Regions from separate parts of the Homo sapiens genome. Here region 2 is reported to be linked to region 1. The links are microRNA targets in miRTarBase. Many come from high-throughput screens and were not tested one by one. Region 1 holds a microRNA gene; the other region holds the end of a gene's coding sequence.
The links. The annotated mature microRNA hsa-miR-136-3p reads CAUCAUCGUCUCAAAUGAGUCU and lies in region 1 at 2,004-2,025, shown strand. An mRNA with a match to its seed (bases 2 to 7 or 8) in the 3' UTR can be bound and repressed. Matches are read on the target gene's strand: a 7mer-m8 pairs with bases 2 to 8, a 7mer-A1 pairs with bases 2 to 7 and ends in A, and an 8mer does both.

Region 1 (5,174 bases):
CGGTGCCCGTTCACGCTTTCCTCCACAATGGTCCCACGCAGCTCCAGTTTTGTGAACCACTCGGCTCCGTGTAACTGGTCAAACAGTTCCGGAATCATCTGTATGTAGTCCTGTCTGTTGGTCAGCATGTCCTGCAGGTCCCAGTATTCCTCCTGTAGCCTGGCTCTTTCTTGCATCCTGGCACCCACAGGTTCCCAAGGCGCGGTGGAGGGACACTCGTAAAAGGTCTCGCTGTGATCACTGTCTCCAGCCTGCTGAAGCTCAGAGGGCTCTGATTCAGAAAGATCATCGGATCCGTCTGAGCTTGGCTGGTCGGAAGTCTCATCATCTGCTTCCTTCGGGTTAAACACGTCGGCCAGGTCTGAGTATGGGTGTGGCAGTCCGGGTAGCAGGCTCATGCCGTGCCTCTCTAGGGCAATGCATGGCGGGGGCGGGCGGAAGCAGTTCTTCAGGCAGTAGGGAGAGTGGAAGGTGCAGCGGCCTTTGATCCAGTCGACTTCGGGGGCGTGGACTCGGAGCCAGCGGATGCCTAGGACCACAGAGAAGTTCGGTGAAGGTACGATGTCAAATTCGATGGACTCCTGGTGGTTCTGGTGGATACACACCAGGGGCTCCGTGTAGAGCCAGACAGGCTCGTTGCCAATCAGCGAGCCGTCCACGGATTGGACCGGCTGTGGGTACGGCTTCTCGTAGAGCTCGACGTAGTGCTCTTGGGCGAACTTCTCATCCATGAAGTTGCCGTCAGCTCCCGAATCCACCAGGGCCTGGACCGCGACGCTGTGGTAGGGGTTCACTCTCACCATGAGCAGCAGGAAGAGGTGGGCGCGATTGATGTCCGGATGGACTTCGCTGGGCAACCAGCTGCTGACCATCCACCTCTCTGGAGCAGGTGAGTCGATCCAGGTCAGGTTCCGGGGGCGGGCCTCGGGGGGCAGCCTGAGCATAGCTCTTCTCTCTGCCAGCTTCTCTTCTATTTGCAGGATGAGCACAATCAGACTGTCTAGGGAATCCGGCTGAGGGACCCGGAATAGATAGTGCCTGATCTCCTCGTTGAGCCCCTGGCACAAGTGGGCCTGCAGGACTTCATCTGGCCAGCCCAAGATGGGTACCAGGCTCTGGAACTCATCGATGTACTCAGTGGCAGAGCGGCCGCCCTGCCTGATGGTGAACATGGCCTCTTCTGCCACACGCAGTGCCTGGCGGTACTCAAACACTTCGGACATGGCCTCCAGGAAGGCTGGGAAGTCTCCGATCAGGGGGCTGTTTTCCTGCAGTAGAGCTTTGGCCCATTCTAATGCCAAGCCGGACAGGTGATTGATGACATAGCCAACTCTCAGACGGTCGTTATAGAACATTCTTGGGTAGCTCTGTAAGGTCAGTTGGCAGAGTACGATGAACTCGTGGAATTCTCTGCGATCGCCAGAGAAGTGCTTTGGGGCGGGCAGTTGGCCTGCATTGATCCCTTTGATCAAGATCTCTTCTGCTACTCTCTGTTGCTCTTTGAGGTCTTGCATTCGGAAGTACAGCGAGATGATGGACCTCACCATGGCCATAAGTTCTGCGGTTGAGTGCTCGGTCTGGTTTTGCTCTTGAGGAGTCTCCTCCCTTCCCGATTCCTTCAGGTCAGTGTGAGCCTCTTGTTCTTCTCGGGCTCCCGATGGGTTGACTGATGCTTCTTTCATCCTATCAGATGCTCCACTGAGTGGATCCCCCCTTGCCTGGTGTGAACCGTTGCATGACTCCTCCAGGTCTTGGAGTAGGTCATTGGGTGGATCCTCTATTTCCTTACGTGGGCCACTGGATGGCTCCTCCATGTCTTGGAGTAGATCAGTGGGCAGCTCTTCCATTTCCTGGAGTGGGCCACTGGGGGGCTCCTTCTTTTCCTGGGCTGGGCCGCTGGCTGGCCCTGCCTCTCCCCGCACTCCACTGCCCGACGTCGCCTCGGTGGTGTTGGATGAGCCCTCGGAGGACTCCATTTGTTTTGATGATGGATTCTTATGCTCCATCATCGTCTCAAATGAGTCTTCAGAGGGTTCTATCATTTCGTCGGATGGAAAGGAGTGTATTCTGAAGATTGGTAAGGTTGTGATGGCGTCCAGTCAGTAGCTGGGACCGTGGAGATCAGAACCTGGTGGTGGAAGGGGAGTGTGGGGAGTAAAGGCAGTAGTTTAGGATCTTGTGAAGTGGCAGTATCAGGGTCTCAAGGACAAATCAGATGCCCAACTAATCAGAGCAGAGAGAAATGGGGGAAAGCCTTCTTGTATCGAGCCAGCCTCTTTGGCTGGTCACTTGGGGTGCCCCCAGGGAGGGAAGATCTGTCAACCCCTGACCTGCCTCCCAGGCTTATTCAGTCTGCCTGTCCTGTCCTTTTCCTCCATAGATGTGAGAAATTCACAGCCCATAAATTCTGTGGCTGGGAGCAGCCACCGTGGCAGGCGGGTACCTGGCAGGGTGCACAGGCTGCTCCATTCCCCCCTGGCACATGCACCTGGTCAATCCTCTTTTCCTGCTTTGGTCACCTGAGAATCACAGAGGTCACATCTCAGCACCATCCAAAGCCACCCCTGGCAGGCTCAGGGCTCTGGAGCAAGCCCAGCCACCTTGGTTGTGGAGCGGGAATCTCTAGCAAAGATGCCTACTGTTTCACCAGTGCAGTGGAAGAGGAGAAAATGGGCACTTGGCCACTGTCCCGTCAGTTGGGTCAGCAGCCCAAAATAGTTCTTATTTCCTTCCCCATGTTCAAAATAGAAATTTCAGGGGGTGTGTACAGGTCTGGGTTTTTTTTTTTTTTTTCCATAAATTTTATAACATACCTACTATGTGCTGGATAACTGCATATTTGTTACTTGATTCTAACTCAGACTTTTGGCCAATTTCTCTTTCTCGATTTGGTCTCCTTCCAATGCTATGTTCTCCCGACCTCTGAGCTGTTGAGGAGATCTTCAAATAATCTCCTTCTCTTCCTACAATCTCCACTCTCCCAGGACTGCCCTCTTTGTGAGGCTTCTGGAACTTCACACATCTGGCCTCAATTTCACCAGTGCAAGCATATCTGCACGCCTCTCCAATCTTATCCTCCCAGGTCCCCTTCTTAACGCCAGTGGGTCTGGTCTCCTCTTTCTAGCAAATATCTTTTTCTCTCTGTTGCTGGTTGAGCCCTCCCAACAGACATGTATCTGGCAGAGTTGGGACATTGAGTGTGGGGGTTGGGGGGAACATGTGACATCTTTGGAATCTGACGGTCCCAGAGTGGATTTTTGGAAATCTAGTGTTGGGTGGTTTTAGTGGGCTGAGACAGAATTGAAAGGGAATGTCTTGGTTGGGGTTATTTGCACATTTCTTCTCTGCTGGGGCAGAGCAAATTAAGCTTTGATTATCTGATAGATTAACTGTAAAGCTACTGCTCTTTATAAATTTAACACCTTTTGTTACTTCTGAGTTTTCTTCTAAGCCACTGGACCCATCCGTAAAAAAAAAAAAAAAAACTGCGTTCCCCCTTACGTGAAACTCATTGGCTAAAATCCAAGCTTTCCAACAGGATACAAAATTCAGATCTGCTGTTTCTCAAAATTAAGTACACCCTTGTTAGCATGACACTTAAATTTGATCATGCAGTCTCTCTGATTAAAGCCTTCCACTGTTTATTTACTGTCTGCAATATTAAATCCAAACCTTCTAGCGTAAACATATCTGACATGTAAACTCACCAAAACTATTCTCTGGTTAAAATGTAAGGGCCTTAATATAATATAAAATTCTTATTTTGTCATTCCTCAAGGTAGAGATCACATTTTTTTAAAGCACAGTATACAAATCAGCATGGTATAGGAATTATAAGAATCATCATCATCATCATCATGATGTACATAGCACATTGCAGAAATTAACTCATTTCCTCTCCATAAAAGTCCTCTGAGATATGCATTATTACTGTAAAATTCCAAACCTCTAATATAAAATTCTAATTGAAATACAAATAAATAATTCTAATTGAAATACAAAAACTAAGTAATTCATCTGCAGACTTATCTATCAGGAATAAAAATCTCAGCATGTCTCTCACTTAAAACTCTTTATTGGTGAAAATTTAAATTTCTTAGCAAGACGATTTAAAAACTAGATTATGCCCCCTCTTAATATAAAGTCTACACTGCTTAACATATTTACAAATTCGACCATGTGAATGATTAAATCCTTCAATGTTCCTGCCTTCAGCTCAAAATCTAATATCCTCGGCATGTTAGAAAAATCTTAATACTTCTTAACATCAAAGTTTAAACTGTTAGCAAGATGAATAAAGGTCATCTCATAATTTCTCTATTTAACACATATAAAAATTCATTTTTATTGCCTGTAAAGTTTCAACCACTTAGCATAAAATGAAAATTTTCACCGTGTAATTTACTTGCCAACTGATTAATACGAACCCCCAAATCTCATCAGGTCACTCCTAAAACCCTTTATTGGCTTAATTCCAAACCTCTTCGCATGATATAAAATTCTGACCATGTCATTCCTCAAAATAAAAAGGTCACTCTCCCTTGCAAGATACACGAATTTGCTCTTATAACTTCTGCTTAAAGCTTTATTCTATCTCTTAATTACCTATGAGATAAGGTCTAATTATTTTTAGCATAGAACAATACATTTTACTATAAAATTTCTCTGACTACTCTACCCAAGACAAAATTTCTGCCATGTTACTGCCTTAAAAATCTCTTAATGAGCCAGGCACGGTGACTCACAGCTGTAATCCCAGCACTTTGGGAGGCCAAGGCAGGTGGAACACTTGAGGTCAAGGGTTCTAGGTCAGCCTGGCCAACATGGTGAAATCCTGTTTCTACTAAAAATACAAAAATTAGCCGGGAGTAGTGGCTCATGCCCGTAATCCTAGCTACTTCTCCTAGGCTGAGGCGGGAGAATCGCTTGAACCTTGGAGGTTGCAGTGAGCCGAGATTGCGCCGCTGCACTCCAGCTTGGGCAACAGAGGGAGATTCCCTCTCAAAAAAAAAACAAGACTCTTAATGGCTGAAGTCCAAATTCCTTAGCATGGCATAAAAATGTAATTCTGTCATCCCTCAAAATAGTGTCCAAACTTCTTAGCATGCTATGTAAATTTAATCATATAACTTCTTTTTATAAAAACATGCTTTGTCTATAAATGACCCGTCTCC
Region 2 (5,000 bases), not on the chromosome of region 1:
TACCTTAGAATTGGACATTGCTGAGCAAATTAATTATGTAGTAAAGTCCACATCTAACTATTCACTTACCCACGATGTCTTTTTGGAAATTCCTTTCTTGACAGGCAACAAGCACAGATCCCCATTGCCACTGCTGGTGTTGTGTACCCTGGAGCCATCGCCATGGCTGGGATGCCCTCCCCTCACCTGCCCTCGGAGCACTCAAGCGTGTCTAGCAGCCCAGAGCCTGGGATGCCTGTTATCCAGAGCACTTACGGTGTGAAAGGAGAGGAGCCACATATCAAAGAAGAGATACAGGCCGAGGACATCAATGGAGAAATTTATGATGAGTACGACGAGGAAGAGGATGATCCAGATGTAGATTATGGGAGTGACAGTGAAAACCATATTGCAGGACAAGCCAACTGATAAGGGTCAAAAGATTGTTGTGACCTTAGGACTTAAAGAAGCCCTAACTGGTTCATCCTTACCAGTGGCCAAGCACATTAACTTTCTCATACACTGACTGTTACTTTAACTGTTAGTCTTAAATAGTTGGGACATCAGCTGACTAATAGACCTCAGCCTCAAAAGGCTTGGAAAGAAAAAACAAATACAACAAGCAAACAACAATATCAACAACAAGAGATTGAAATAAGCTATGGGTAAAATAATGCCAGTAATTCAGCTGCTACATCCAAGCACTGAAGTCTTACCCGTCAACTTTTTTTTTTTTTTAAATAAACTTTATGGCTGTTTGTTCTACAATGTTCTAGAAATTCTCACTCAGGTACACAGTGCCAACAAGTGGCTTGTGAATGTGTTTTGTTGTTTTGTGCTACAATTTTTAAAAAGAAAAAAGTTTTGTTTTGTTTTTTGGGGTTTCTGGGTTTTTTCCTTTTCTTTTTCTTTCCTTTCATTTTTTTTCTTTGTAATGCACCTGACAGAAAAAAAAGAAAAATGAATTTCTCTTTACTTCTCTCCACCTTCTCCATCTCTCTACTTTAAAGATGGAAGTCTGTGCATGAGGGGAAAGAGGGAAAAAGAGCCTGTTTTTAACTTCCTTGCTATCCACCACAAAATAAGCAATTATTTTCTTTAGAGGACTTTATCTATTGCACACCACACTACATCTTTGAGCAAGTGCCAAATTTGTACTGAAGTGTTGACCAAGTTCATTTTTTCTCTTTACTTTTTCCTTTTCCTTCTTAAGTTAGGACAGTGTTAAATCTTAGACAATCCCTTGAAAAACCTGAAATACCAGCAGCTGGTGAGATTTGACTTTTTTTTTTAATGGAAACTGTAGGTGCTGTTCTCAGGTGAAAAGAGAGAGAGAGAGAGAGACATAAGAAATTTAGAGAAAAATATTTTCTGATCTTGGATTTTTGTGTGTATGTATGTATGTGATTATGGTACTAATAATAGGAATAACGTTGGACCATTGTGAGTTAAACCCACATCTGGGGATGAAATCCCACATCCTCCCAAGTGACTGGTCTAGAAATAATCTTGACCTTGACTTTGCACTTCAAATGACAACTTAACCAAGTATAGGGCTCAGAAATTATATTTTTAAATGTCTGATTATTATTGGATGGATCAGGTGGCCCTGTGTAATAGAGGTGTGCATGTATAACATGGAAGCTACTAGCAAACTGCTCCCAGATGTCCTTTCTCCCTGGTCAGTTGGTTCCATTAACGTTTGCTACTTAGTGATTTTTGTTTTTCCTGTTGATATTTTGAGCAAAACAATCATTGTTTTCATTGAATATATTTGGCCATTTTTTCAGACAAATAGAATTAGCTTATTTCTTCAACATTCCATCCTTTCCCGATCAGGAAATGAAACTGATGATTTTATAAGGTATTTTTCACCCCTCCATGAAGTGAGGTGGAGGCCTTTAGCATTTCAGAAGTGTGGGCCATATGTAGTTCATGCCATAAAAAGTAGGATTTAATTAAAAGTCATTGCAGCCCAATAAAATGGAGCCTGGCTGCACCCAGGGATCCTTGCCACTGCTCTTCCCTTGCTGTCAGATTAATCCACTGAAGTCCAACTTTGGTTCAAGCAGAGTATTTGCAAAGAGCAACAACTGAATGTGATGGGACTGCTTATGTAGATTTTGCCAGCCAAATGCCAAGGCAGTTGTAGGGCCTGTACAAATAAATGCAAAATCATTTCAAGTCAATTGCCATTATTTGTATTGAAGTATCAGATAGATAGTAAATACTGCAACTAGTAGCTTGATGTGCTATAGTTTTCACTCCAGTCATCATTTTCCTATCTCACCCCCCGAAACACCACCCTAAAGTTGGATTTTTACATATAAATAAAAAAAGAATCCCTTTTATTTTTCTCTCTCTCAGAAGACTTGCTCTGGGGTTTTGCTTGGAGGAGCTGATCATATCCTGCATGTCAGAGATTTCATTTTGTTTGTTTTTCTGTTTGTTTGTTTTTGATGACTTTATTTACATTTGAACTGCCTCTTTTTGCTAGTGTTGTAATGATGATGATGATAAAATAATAATAATAATAGTAATAATAATAATAATGGTCAGCTGTTCCCAGATTAGTAAGTTATGTATAATTTATTTTATTTCTCCCTTTCTATTTTATTCTGCTCTGATTTGGAAGTGCAGCCAATAAGCTGTTAGATATTTAAAACAAATTTCCATCTCCAACTCATATATGTATGTATATGTATATATATATATACATATATATACACACATATACACACACACACACACATTTACCCACAATTTTACTTCTCTTTCCGTAAGTTTTCTCTTTTTTAAGAATTTTGGCCCCAACAATATCAGTTCTGATGTTTAAAACAAAGGAGTGAATTAATAGGAGGGTCGTGTTCAATCTTAATTAACTTATGCTCTCATCACTCATTTTAGTTATTTAATTGCCACAGTCATCTAGAGCCAATTTTTTTTTGTTTTTGTTTGTTTTGTTTTTAAGCACTCTGGATAAGGAAAAAATAGACACTTGTTTTTATATCATTTTTATGTACAATGTGAAAACAGATTTTTAAAAAATTTGTTCTCTGTCTTTGTTAACAAATTCCTTCCGATTTATGTGGGTTCACCTCTCACGTTTGCTGGATACTTACTTTACACCATGTTATGAAAGATGCTTTGTTTTCATTTCATGAGTTTGGGCTACAAGAATACTTTGTTTTAGCTCCAGGTAGATGCCATTGAAGGCATTCATGGCTGAAATCAATTCTAACACACTTACCGATGAATTGACAACACTTTGGTGTTTGGTCTTTTTTTTGTTATATTTTGTTTTATTTGAAGGGGAAAACAAAATTGTTAATGGTGACTTTTAACTGCTGAAATTCAAAATTTGATTTTAGTTAGGTTTATGTCCGAGACTAAACTGTGCATGAACCGAAACAAAAAGCAAGTTCATACCGCTGCATTCTGTTCTCTTGTTCTGACGGTTAATTCACTGGACATCAAATTTTCTTTGCCCTAGTTTTCCCCAAAAGAAAACAAAAGCAAAAATAGTTATATTAATGTTGAAAGTGCTTTGAAGTCACTTGATAAAAGGTGCTATGAATAGCAACTTACTGTGTTACTACATTGCCTTTTTGGCATTGGTTGATTTATAATTTTGGTAAAGGATCCTAAAACCCTGTATTCTTTTTCTGTGCCCCATAATGACCAAAAAAGATAAAGAAAATGAGAGTAAGATCAAAAGATCAAACTAAAACATAAACAGTCTCCTTCCTGTCTGCTTTCTTACCTATCTGTTCACACTTTATCTCTTTCCCTTTCTCTCTCTCTCTCACATGCGCGCGCGCGCGCGCGCACACACACACACACACACACTTGCCCCAACACTGAGAAATAATCTTGCCAGAATTCTGGTTTTTATAGTTGTTGTAGTCCGTTTCTCTAAAAATAGTCCTGTTTTCATATGAATCTAAGAGAACATTACCGGAGAAAATAAAGTTACTCATTTATAGTTACTAATAATAAGTTAGTGATTAACTTACCACAATTGGATAAAATATAAAACTATTCTTCAGCACATTTATACCTAAATTAGTGAAGTCCATTTGTGAAGTTCATTTGGCATCTGCAGTTAAGAGTTAACCATGTATAAAATCCCTCCCAAAGAACATAATCATCGTTAGAACCAAATCCTCTTATAAAGAACAAATATAAAAAAGTTTTCTGTGGTGAAGCTATTTTATAGATTTGATTTCCGGAGTAGAATTTTACCTTAATTCACTTAAAGAAAATTAACCATTTTTTGGTCCAACTTCAGATATTTTCTTAATCCAGAAGCTGTGACTGTTCCCAGAAGAAACCTCTTATATCACATTTAAAACATAAAAAATAATTACACTTTCACTCATTCTAATGGGTAAATTGTTGAATTGTAATAAACAACTGTATATTTACAAACAGGTTTATAAGGTATTTGTCTATCAAATTAATAATAAAATAAAACTTACGGGGTCTGCAAGGAAAACTATGAAGGCCACTTAAAGTGGTTCAGGTATCCCTTTGTCTTGTAGGGCATAGCTGTTGGTTTAGCCAGGCTTTTACAGTATTTAATTTTAAAGTATCCTATAACTATCAACTTCCCAGGTTGAAGACGATGTGTTGAGTTTCCTACTGATTGATTGATTCCTGTCCTCCCCAGTGTTTCCGTCACTGGTTCACTAAAACAGTATTTATATAGCTCCACTGGCTCTAAAGCTCTTAGTCCTTCTAATATTTTGGATTTTACAAGTAAAAATGGAAAAAAAATAGAAAAGAGACAATCAAATGCCTGGAGCTTAAAACAAAGTATGTGCAACCTACCATCTCACTTGAAATTTAATAAAATAATAAGTAATTATGTAAATATAACATAGAGTTATAGATTTATATTTTGTTCATAACACATAGTGTAATATAAGTTGTATATTTTCATGTTTTTGGTTTTATGTTATCATTCATGCCACAATAAAAATAAAACAGGAGTTTATGTGCTCTTAAAAAAAAGATGT

Region 2: miRTarBase lists SOX5 as a target of hsa-miR-136-3p. Seed matches in the 3' UTR shown: 7mer-A1 at 2,492-2,498.

Annotation. Positions count from the first base shown.
Region 1 is chr14:100,882,747-100,887,920 of GRCh38, forward strand. MIR136 (microRNA 136) reads left to right here and starts at 1,956; the gene lies at 1,956-2,037. It overlaps RTL1 (retrotransposon Gag like 1), which reads right to left. Exons shown (of 4, transcript NM_001134888.3): 4 at 1-2,128. The coding sequence starts at 2,042. It overlaps MIR127 (microRNA 127), which reads left to right and starts at 233; the gene lies at 233-329. It overlaps MIR432 (microRNA 432), which reads left to right and starts at 1,737; the gene lies at 1,737-1,830. RefSeq lists a silencer at 2,946-3,240.
Region 2 is chr12:23,529,627-23,534,626 of GRCh38, reverse strand. It overlaps SOX5 (SRY-box transcription factor 5), which reads left to right. Exons shown (of 15, transcript NM_006940.6): 15 at 105-5,000. The coding sequence ends at 408. Among named protein-coding and RNA genes, the nearest start is that of SOX5, 420 kb to the left of the region's middle.